Linked DNA regions of Homo sapiens. The protein of the gene in region 2 interacts with the protein of the main gene of each other region in a pairwise test. Each region holds a gene or a part of one and is shown on either strand. Other genes may lie near its edges.

What was found.
Region 1: the proteins of AGGF1 (region 2) and TOR1AIP1 interact in binary tests that used the Homo sapiens proteins (3 or more experiments, as listed by UniProt).

Annotation. Positions count from the first base shown.
Region 1 is NC_000001.11:179,885,164-179,892,464, reverse strand, and holds part of TOR1AIP1 (torsin-1A-interacting protein 1), read right to left. Parts: intron 3,156-7,301; coding exon of another isoform or gene 3,153-3,155; coding exon 3,096-3,152; intron 1-3,095. UniProt on the Homo sapiens protein: Required for nuclear membrane integrity. Induces TOR1A and TOR1B ATPase activity and is required for their location on the nuclear membrane. Binds to A- and B-type lamins. Possible role in membrane attachment and assembly of the nuclear lamina.
Region 2 is NC_000005.10:77,061,186-77,065,817, reverse strand, and holds the end of AGGF1 (angiogenic factor with G patch and FHA domains 1), read right to left. Parts: intron 4,116-4,632; coding exon 4,016-4,115; intron 2,767-4,015; coding exon 2,566-2,766; 3' UTR 584-2,565; downstream 1-583. UniProt on the Homo sapiens protein: Promotes angiogenesis and the proliferation of endothelial cells. Able to bind to endothelial cells and promote cell proliferation, suggesting that it may act in an autocrine fashion.

The DNA.
Region 1 (7,301 bases), on a different chromosome or scaffold from region 2:
TTTTACTCTTTTTGCCCAGGCTGGAGTGCAATGGCGTGATTGCGGCTCACTGCAACCTCTGCATCCTGGGTATAAGTGATTCTCCTGCCTCAGACTCTCAAGCAGCTGGGGTTACAGTGCACAGCACCACCACGCCTGGCTAATTTTGTACTTTTAGTAGAGACGGGGTTTTGCCATGCCAGCCAGGCTGGTCTTGAACTCCTGACCTCAGGTGATCTGCCCACCTCAGCCTCCCAAAGTGCTGGGATTATAGGCGTGAGCCACCACACCCAGCCTAAAAAGCTTTTTTAAGTCTCTAAAGAAGTGGCCTGAACTTAAGTGAAAGATGAATTAGAGGAAGGTACAATGATTTATAAAGAAAAATGAAGCGTTTCCCTTTTGGCTCATCTTCAAATTTAGAAAATAATTAAAATGTAAAAAAAACTAAGTCTAACAACATTCAATGTAGATTCATTTAAAACCACAAATCATGGTATGTCATGTCCTATAGCCAGGCAGACACTGAAATGAATTAAAACCCGTTCAACGAACGTATTACAGCAAAGGACACTGAACTCGCCGTGAACAACGTATCGAATTCACTTTCTAAATGAAGAAAGGGCCAGGTGTGGTGGCTCACGCCTACAATCCCAAAACTCTGGGAGGCCGAGGCAGGTGGATTGCTTGAGGTCAGGAGTTCGAGACCAGCCTGACCAACATGGTGAAACCCCATCTCTACTAAATATACAAAAATTAGCTGGGTGTCATGGTGGTCATCTGTAATCCCAGCTGCTTGAAAGGCTGAGGCAGGAGAATCACTTGAACCAGGGAGGCAGAAGTTGCAGTGGGCCAAGATCACGCCATTGCACTCCAGCCTCGGTGATAGAGCAAGAGCCTGTCTCGAGAAAATAAAAATAAATAAATAAATAAAAATAAAAAATAAAAATAAAAATCAAGGAGAAAGGCCGGGCGTGGTGGCTCATGCCTGTAATCCCAGCACTTTGGGAGGCCAAGTGGGGTAGATCACAAGGTCAGGGAGTTTGAAACCAGCCTGGCCAACATGGTGAAACCCTGTCTCTACTAAAAATACAAAACAAGTAGCTGGGCGTGGTGGTGGGCACCTGTAATCCCAGCTACTTGGGAGGCTGAGGCAGGAGAATTGCTTGAACCTGGGAGGCAGACGTTGCAGTGAGCCGAGATCGCACCACGGTACTACAGCCTGGGTGACAGAGCAAGGCTCTGTCTCAGAAAAACAAAAACAAAAAATAAATCAAGAGAAAAACCTTAATTGGTAAGTTGTTATCTCCTTTTTCCTAATAGTGTGAATTTAATGAAGACTAGCAGGACTAAATTGATTACATGTTTTTATATGAATTTAAGCAATAATATAGGCATAATTATAGACAACAAAAACCAAGGCTGTTTATGGGAGGTCCTAGTCATAGGGACTGGGTCCCCACAAACTGACATAATAAATTAGTATTCTCAAGCCAATGACTAGATATATATACTCTTGTATTCTATTAATCTGGACCCTCAAAGAGACCTTGTAAGAATTAGAGATAGGGTTGGGCGCAGTTGTGCATGCCAATAATCCCAGCACTTTGGGAGGCCAAAGCGGGTGGATTGCTAGAGCCCAGGAATTCGAGACTAGCCTGGGCAACATGGTGAAACCCCATCTCTATAAAAAACACAGGAATCAGCCAGGCATGGTGATGCATGACTGTAGTTCCAGCTACTCCAGAGGCTGAAGTAGGAGGCTCAGTTGAGCCTCCAGAGTAGCTGGGACTACAATAGGAGGAGGAGGCTGCAGTGAGCCAAGATCACGCCACCGCACTCCAGCCTGGGTGAGAGTGAGACCCTGCCTGGAAAAAAAAAAGAATAGAAATAAACGAACATAATTCACTCATTTTAGTATTTCTATTTGTTTTGTATGTCGAATCTGCAAGAGACATAGCAAGAGAATGATTAGGGTTGAAAAGGAAATGCATCATATGGTTCTTTACCACAGGTTCATTAACAAAACCTTAGTAGATCTTTACCACTGGAATACTTAAAAGGATAGTCAACTATCTATCGAAATAAATCAACATCATTCTTTGATAAAGAGAATGGGAAGGTACAGAAGCCTAATATAAAGATAAATACATTTCCTTTTTAGTTCCCATGATAAAGCATCTTTAAGAGCCAAAAAAACAAGGAAAATGAAGTAAAAGTAGACTGCTTGGAGTGTCTTTACTAGTTTTCTTCATAGTCATGAAATCAATTTCAGGGCAATACTTTTAATCGTTTTAGTCAAAAAGATAACTGAGGGAGGGACATTTTGTCGTTCTGTGCCACAGAGCTCCAGCTTGAATTTTTTGTTAGCAGTATACTGGAAGAATAAAGTCCCTGACCATAGTTTAAAATCATCATAAAGAATCACAGGAATATATAAGAAACAATCTCTTTAAAAAAGGAAGCTTTTTATATATGAATATAGAAATATCTCTGTATATATGTTAAGTAAAAATAAACAAGAAAGTGCAGAAAAGTAAGCCAGGTGCCGTGGCTCATGCCTGTAATCCCAGCACTCTGGGAGGCTGAGGTGGGTGGATCACTTACCCAGGCGTTTGAGATCATGTGGGTAACATGGCAAAACCCCATCTCTACAAAAGATACAAAAATCAGCCAGGCGTGGTGGTGGATGCATAGTCTCAGCTACTTGGCAGGCTAAGGCAGGAGGACTGCTTGAGCCAGAGAGATTGAGACTGCAGTCAGCCCTGGTTGTGCCACTGCACTCCAGCCTGGATGACAGAGCGAGATCTTGTCTCAAATTAAAAAAAAAAAAAAAGACAGAAATGAGAGTTTATAAAGCCAAAATTTGTATTATAAAAAGGACAAGATAATTTCATCCATGAATTTCTGTAAATCTCCAAAAAATATAAACTGACAACATTGGTTGCTTTTGATGAAGAGAGACTGGCTGGCTGAATGACAGAGGGGACAGGGAGATTTTTTAATGTATATTTACAGTAACTTTTAAGTTCTGAATCATATGAATACATGTACAACCATATTTAAAAATAAAACTGTATTTATAACAAAGGTAAACCAACAGACAAACAATCTCTTACCATATCTTGGGTATCTTAGAGGGGGTCGACGTAACCTGATTACAAGATCTTCACTCACTGCTAATATAGGAAGAGAAAACATTTAAAAATATATAAAATGTGAAACATACTAGCTTTATTACATGATCATCCCTTATTTATTCAACAAAGGTTTACAGAGCTTTTATTTACGCTAGAGAAGTAGAGACAAGCTTTCTAAGTGACAACTGTTGCGAACTAGTGATGATAGTGAACTAGAGACAAGTTTCCTGCCATATAAAATTTATAGTCTTGATGGAGAAATTTGCATTTTTTCTCAGCAAACCGTAGCTGTAGGAAGGAAAGAAATACTAAATAAAATTCTTCTAAATTGCTCAATTAAGAACCAAAATCTGTATTATGGTACCAACTCAATTATCTATTCCATTTGTGACTGACCCTCATTGTGGATTATTTATGGAATATTTTAATTTTAGGGTTAACATCCTGAGATTCAATACGCTCATTCTATTTAACCTTGTGTTGAAGAAATGCAAATTAATTTTAAATAAAAACATTAATGTGGGCCAGGGTTTATTTTAGACCATCTATAGTTCAATGGCATAGGGATAGCGGAGAAGCCGATCCTATTAAAATGTTAATTTTAGTCTAGAAAACCACCTATAAAAGTATGTTTTCTCCAAGTACCTCACATAACATGTTCTAAAACCAAATATTTATCAAAATTTGGATTCTATTATGTTTTGTTTCATTCATCTGTATAAAAAAGCATTATGTCTTAGCTCTGAGTTGCAAAAAACACATTCTGGAACTTTGATGATCCCCTTAAATATTCCAGCTCTAAAATTCTATGAAATATCTATCTCAGTATTTCACACATCAAGTATTTAGAACTTATATCGATATCTTTAAAAAATAAATCTTGCCAGCCTAGGCAACATACTGAGACCCTGTCTGGGCATAGTGGTGTGTGCCTGTAATCCCAGCTATTTGGGAGGCGAAGGCAGGAGGATGATAGCTTGAGTCCAGGAGTTTGTGGCTGCAGTATAACTGCACTGCACGCCAGCCTGGGTGACAGTGAGACCCTGTCTCTTTAAAACAAAAACAAAAACCCTGCACACATGATAATAAAGGCAAATTTTAGTTCCTGTTACTCCACATATTACAACTACCTTCCTCTTTTTCTTCTCTATACTTCTAGCCTTTTCAGGTTTAATTAAAACCTAAAATCTGTTTTTGGTTTGTCTGCTTTTACTAAGCTATGTTTAATCAAACTGACTCTACAGACATCAATCACTACTTCAGTTCCCATCTTTTCATTTAAGAAGCATTTCCTGCATGTGCTACTATATACATATCCCATAGCCAAGTAAAGTACTTGAAAGACACAGGGTACCAGAGAGAGGTATGAGAGAACAAAATATCAAGTACCCTTCTTTGGTAGGAGGCTTCCTCACTTGTCTGCTTTTGTTCACCACTGCACCCTCAAATCAAAGCATGGAGACTGGCCCAAAGTAGGTGCTCAATAATTATCTGGAGAATGAATGCTCTAACTACAGCAGCTAGAGAAGCAAATGTTCATGATAAAATAGTAAGCATTTAAGAACAACTATCTGATTGTTTAGCTAGAAACCACACTAGTAGAACAAAAATACCCATTTAACTTCTGGAAAAGTAAATAGAATTTGTCCTAATATATTTTTGGATTATAAAATTAGTGTCATAATTTCCAGAAAGAAATGAATCTGGCCATAGGAGAATAACTGTTATGTAGGTATATATAACCTGAATTGATTAAACAACCTAACGGCTATTTTAAGTGAAAACAACTCAATTATGGAATTTCAAACAATGAGAAGATTTCAAACTATATTCCTGTTCTGAATTAATCAACATTTTCAAGTCTTCCAATAACAAGATAACCAAATGATGTAGATATTTTTACTATGTTGTTTTATAAGGTGGTCCTTTGGTTTAGGTATTTTTTTTTTTTAGACGGACTCTGGCTCCATCACCCAGGCTGGAGTGCAGTGGCATGATCTCGGCTCACTGCAACCTCCGCCTCCCGCGTTCAAGCGATTCTCCTGCCTCAGCCTCCCGAGTAGCTGGGATTACAGGTGCCCACCACCACGCCTGGCTAGTTTTTGTATTTTTAGTAGAGATGGGGTTTTCACCATATTGGCCAGGCTGGTCTCGAACTCCTGACCTCGTGATCTGCCCACCTTGGCCTCCCAAAGTGCTGGGATTACAGGCGTGAGCCACCATGCCGGGCCTAGGTCTTTATTCGTAAGGGCATCTTTGCATAATTTTCTGTCAGACCACACCGGTAGCCTTATATACAATTATAGCACTATTTTGAATATCAAAGTTAAACTGAATGTCTATCATTCTATGAGGAAGAAGGGCTTATCTTTACCTTAAACTTGTACTTAAAGCAGTCCTCCATCAAAGAGTGACTCCATTTAAATAATTTCTCTTAGACTTTATAAGCATTTAATAATTCCCTAAACTCTCCTTTCATTAAGAGGCATGGGATGGGAATATGCCAAGTATTAGATGTAGTATAAAAGCACCTTTTAGAGGAAGAAAACCCTGAGTATCTCAAACCTCTCAAAGACAGACATACTCTTATTTCTAGTAATACTGAAGGCACAGTATGCTATTGATACAGTCCAGGTAATCTATGTGCAGATTCCATTTAATCTGTCATTTATATTGGTAAACATTTTCAATTTCTATTTATAGCATAAGCTTCTTGAGAAAAAGGATACACTTAAGCAAAATTGTATGAACTTCACATCTCTTGTAAAGGGCTATGAGAAAAAAAAAACCTCACTTGCATGTTTTACCGGGTACAAAGTGATTTCAAATGTACTATCTCATTTCTTCAGAGGCCCTGTGAGTTATGCAGGGCAAATAACACAGGTAAAGGCCTAAGGCTCAAGATGAGTGAGTAACTTCACTGAGGTCCAATGCTCTTGCCACAACCTCATGCAGCCATGGTGTACCTCATTAGCAGTTCTTAAATATGAGCCTAATATAAACTCCAAAAAGACTATTCAAGACATTCTATTACTTAATAGTTTTATAATGGTCCGGAGGCTAGCACTCAGTAGTCTTCATTATACCAATTTACTTAACTCCATAATTTTTATAAATTACTCTAGATTTAAAATTAGACATTTTTGCTTTCCCAGGTATACAATAAAATCTACTGCAAATAAATTCAAGATTATGGTTTTCCAAAATGGCCCAGAAAATCTGATTATATCATCATTATTCAAAGCATTTTTCTAAGATAGTTTATAATCTTAACACAGTAACATAGACTATTCAAGGAATATAGGACAGGCCAGGCGTGGTGGCTGATGCCTATAATCCCAGCACTTTGAGAGGCCAAGGCGGGTGGATCACCTGAGGTCAGGAGTTCGAGACCAGCTTGGCCAACATGGTGAAAACCTATGTCTACTAAAAATACAAAAATTAGCCAGGTGTGGTGTCAGGCGCCTGTAATCCCAGCTACTCAGGAGGCTATGGCAGGAGAATTGTTTGAACCTGGGAGGTGGAGGTTGCAGTGAGTGGAGATGGCACCACTGCACTCCAGCCTGAGCAACAGAGCGAGACTTTGTCTCAAAAAAGAAAAAAGAAAAAAAAATTAGCATGAAGGTGTTTTTATTTGAAACTCAACTTGAACCAGACATACTTATTCTAAGTTTAGAATACAATAGCTCACATTATAAAGCATAATCTTATTAGAAACAGGTAAATAAGTCAGGATCTGGGTACTAAAAACCAAGGATTATCAGTTTTAACAGCTATGATTGTTTATTATTGTGAGACTTTCCTAATATCAAAAAAAGCAAATTGAAAATTAAATGGAACTAAAACCCAAAGCATTAATAACTGGACTTGATCCCTTCTCCAGCTTTTTAAAATATTTTAATCAGCTTTTAAAACTTAAGTGAACTATTAAATGTAGCCTACTTCCATGTTACATTGATTCTGACAATTTTTTTAAACACTTTAACATCTTTGAAATTGGGATGCATCATATAATTATGGCATATTACTACAAATTACCAAAAAATTGGCAGCATTTTCCCTTGCTAGGTGGTACATAAAACAATGATGGTGTTTCTTATAGTCGATAGCATCTTAAGATTTGATAAACCACAGTATTAAACTGAAAAGACTGATCACACTGTGTCAAGATTTTACCATGAAGAA
Region 2 (4,632 bases):
TGAGGTCAGGAGTTGGAGTCCAGCCTGGCCAACATGGTGAAACCCCATCTCTACTAAAAATACAAACATTAGCCAGGCATGTTGGCATGCACCTGTAATCCAGCTACTTGGGAGGCTGAGGCACGAAAATCGCTTGAACCCAGGAGGTTGAGGTTGCAGTGAGCTGAGATTGCACCACTGCATTCTAGTCTGGGCAACAGAGCAAGATTCTGTCTCAAAAAAATAAATAAATAAAAATCATAAAAAATTAAAAATATTCTATGGAAAGTCAGAAGGTTTTTGATTTGCGTAAACCATTACGTTCTATAAATGCAGGATAAAAATGACACATCAGAAGTAACACTTGTTTCAAAAGCAGAAAAAAGTTCCTCTTTTTGAGGATAAGGGTGCTTCCTCTATTTAATACTGGAAAAAATTTCTATTTTACTCTAATGTTGAAAGTTTCTTCTGTTCTCAACTTTGCCAGCTTATGTTCTGGCAAAAATATTAGATGTTAGATTTCTTAAAATTCAGAACTTGCAGCTCCACTTAAAATACATACTTAAACGCTACTCAGAAAATGTGTAGTGTGATTAAACAAATATTTAAAATTAGACACAAAAAATTTATGCAAAATTCAAACTGTATATAATTCACATTTATGCTTCTAAACAAATAGAAGCTCACATCTGTACTACTTTTACAATTTACAAAGTGCTTTTATATACATTTTCTCATTTGCTATTCATGACAGACACGTGAGACAAATATTCTTATTTTACAGATGGAAATAGACCCAGACATTATTCAGTACTTTAACCACTAATAGTGGAACCCTGAGACTTTAGATCTGCAAAGGGGTTTAATAATGCAAATATCACATATATTTCCATTTTTAACACCATATTTAAGTTTTCCATTTTCTTAATAGAAAATGATAAAAAATGTTTTCCCCAATATAATAATACAAATGGAAAATATTATAGACAGTCATATACTAACCCAATGACCAAGATTCACCAGAAGCAAAACCTATTTGGAGGGGTCCTATATTGTTACATATATACAGGGCACCAGCACCAGAACCACATTTAGACTAATACTTTTTATTTCTAATTAAAAGAAAACAATGCAGGGCACTCCTGCAGCCTGCAAGTCTAACTGTACATACGTATGTGTCAGACTATGCAGGTGGCCAAGAAGAATGCAAAGAGATATTTTATCCAAATTTGGAGTTTAGGGCCTGATTGTCCTAGCTTAAGCCCATAGGAACCTGACAACTCGTTCATACCTCTCATCTTTAGTCATAGTTTCTCCTTCTCCATCCCCTTTTCTCCGTAACTACCCTGTGCCATTTAGACTGGAAATTCTAACAGGTAGCTTTTTCTTTCTGAATTATCTTTACTACTGTATAATTTTTATTTTCAGAATATTCCTTATTTCTACATCTCGAAGACATTTCTTTATAGTAGATGGGGGAGCTAGAGCTTACATTCACTGCCAGAAAAGGGTCAGTTCCAGTGTTAATTTCCCAGCAAACACCTGAGAGAAAAACTGAACAGAAAAAGAATAGTGATAGGTGGCAGAGCAGTGACACCTGTGCCCAGAAAGCCGCACTGCAATTGTCTAATATTTGAGGCTCTCCTTTGTTATAACTCTGCCAATTTAAACTAGAAAATTCTGGCTGCTTGAAAATTCAAAGCAGATCAATACATTTAAATCACCGGTTCAAAAAATCACTCTTTTTCATGTTATAATGTTTTTATTGCAATTGAGGATGTTTTCAATAAGTATCTTGAGCTTGAGGCCCTGGCTAAGTATTCCTTTTGTACTAGAAATCAGATTTCTCTGGCACAATTCCATTGCCTGCAATGGTCTTTATCAAAACTACAAAAGCCAGCACACTATTTCAATATGTATTCAGTTGTTCATATCTAAATACCTCATTAGCTATGAAACAAACCAAATATAAATGCTGAATATACAGTACATAGCAACAGATTCTTCACAGAAGAAAACAATGAAAGACTAATTTTCTACAATATGTTACCTGTTCATTAGTTCTTCAATAACATTACTTAGGCTATTTCAAGGATAACAAAATGTATGCGCCACTACCCATGTTTTCGCAACATTTTTTACCTAGGTTCTAAAGGGAATAAATGAGGATGCATATAGTCAGATTTATTTTTATAAACTTCTGATGTTTCTTTTGTTGTGCATCTTACATGAATATATGGAGACAAGAACAGATGTACACTTAAGTCATTAGTAGTTCTATGAATTTTGCTTATATGGCTAGTTGCTTATATGGATGTTGTAAATGACAAGATAAAATAACGAAGTTTGATAAACTCATCCGTGCCCTGTGAACTTTAGTCTATTTACTGCATAAATTGGTTCAGTCACTATTTATTAGTTTTAAAAAAATGGTTTTTAAAAGCTGCAAACCATACACATTTCTGAATCAGGAAGAGGTAAACTGTGACATAGTTCCCCTGTGCTGCTGATTCTTTTGGGGAGAAAAAATAAGTTTCCAAATTCTATTTTTAAAAAAACTAGAGGTTTTTTTTCTATGATTAGCCTTCACTCTAAAGTCCCTTTTACCCAAGGCATGGTCCCTGGGTCATCTTTTTGAGGCTTAGTTTCTGGGAAGTTTTCAGTAAACCGCTCTCGTGCTTTGTCCCAGTTTTTTTTGTTCTTGTTTTGGAGAAGGTGAACATCTTCAAATGAGGATGGTTTGCCTGTCCCCAAGCCTGCATGTGTTCGCCGAAGCTGAAGCTGGATCTGTTACCAAAAGTTGAGCAGAGGACTTATTTTAGAGTCTAAACACATTGAAATCTGCTGTGTCCAACTTAGGACTCTACAATTTTTTGATTTATTAAAGATTGATGCAAAAGAAAAACCTGTCAGATGCATCAAATACATACAGGAATATATATACCTTTATACATGGAACTTACATTCATTTTTCTATGTTGTCTTGCCTTGTCAATAAGTACAGCCTACTTTACAGAAAATAGAGTGCTCCTTAACTAGCAATCACCAAATTTCATTTAGATGCTGCAGAGTATGTCATTCCACCCTAACCAGAAATAAAGGCAATGGATATGTTTAAACCCACTGTCCTATCCTTATCTAAGTAAGTGAACAAGCAGGTTAAACATTAATAACCATAAAAAGAATTTGATTGTTTTCATAACAGGAGGGGAGCACTTCTCAATATTTTAAGAACATTCAAAGCTACCATTTACTGAGTGCCTAATGTAAGGTACAATGCTTAGGGGCTTTATCTTCAAGACAACCCTGAAAAAGAGTTCTTATCCCCATTTTTTCATAAGAAAACTAAAGTCCAAACTTGCCCAAAGCCACATAGCTAGTAAATGATAGAGCACATATTCTAACCTAGGTCTGACTACAAAATCCTTGTTCTTTCCACTGTACCTCAAAAAAAATGAGAAAGCTGGTATATACTCACACTGATCCATCTATTATTTCTTTAGGTACTAAGTTCATTATCCAGAAAGTTCTACAGTCAGGTTACTTATTAAGGTTTGTGTGAAAGATAACCTAAACCTCCTACGAACCATGGGACCATTAATTAAACCACTATGTCATTTTCCAGAGATTATTCTCTATATTTCATGTTACATGCTCTGATTCTTGAACCAAACAGATTTTTCAGCTCATACACAATCCACCTGTTTGTAAACTAACACTGTGATTGTTCTTGAGTGCTCTGACAGTTATTAAAAATGACTCTAAAACACAGAAGAACCTTTGGCTCAGGAAACAGCACTTCTCACCCTAGCTTTAATGTAGGGAAAAAAACTCAAAAAGAGGCTTTCTAAAAATATAAAACACAAAACAAAGCACATGTATATATTTGGTAATTGTGAATGCCACAAAGGCAGTAATCATGTCTCCTTTTGCTTTCTACTATATTCTTAGCACTTAAGGCAACGTTTGGCACATTAATGTACACGGTAAATGTCTGCTCTAGGAATAAATGAATAAAAGAAAATCCAAGTCTTACCGGCGTTTTCATTCCTCCACCATCCTTCCCCAGGCCCTCTCCTTTCTTCCAACCCATCTTCTCCAACATCTTCCGACCTTTGTTGCTATCAGTAATTTCACTTTAAGGAATATTAAAATGATAGTTGATTTATAAAAGATCTTTTAGGTCACATTTATAATAAATTCATGAATTAAAAGTAATTGGTACAACTACTTTAGAAAACCGCTTGGCATTACCTAACAAAGTTGAAGACACACAAATTCCACTGGTACATATCCTACTTAGAAAAGCATGTGCATGTGCACCAAAACACACATACAACAATGTTCTTCCAGCAAATCTAATAGCAACAAATCAGAAATGATCCAGATGTCTGGCAATGATTAAAATGGATAAATTGTGGTATAGTGATACAGTAGAATATTATTCAGCAATAAAAATAAACCATACCTAACAAAATAATGTGGAACACAAAAAATATAGACACAAAATAAATACTGAATTGTTCCATTTCATTAAAATTTTAAAATAAGTGAAATTAATCTATTGCTGTTAGGATGGTGATTACCTTTCGGGAGGACAGCAGGACAGTGATTAGGTGGGGCACAGGGAGAATAAGCTTCTGGGGTTACTGA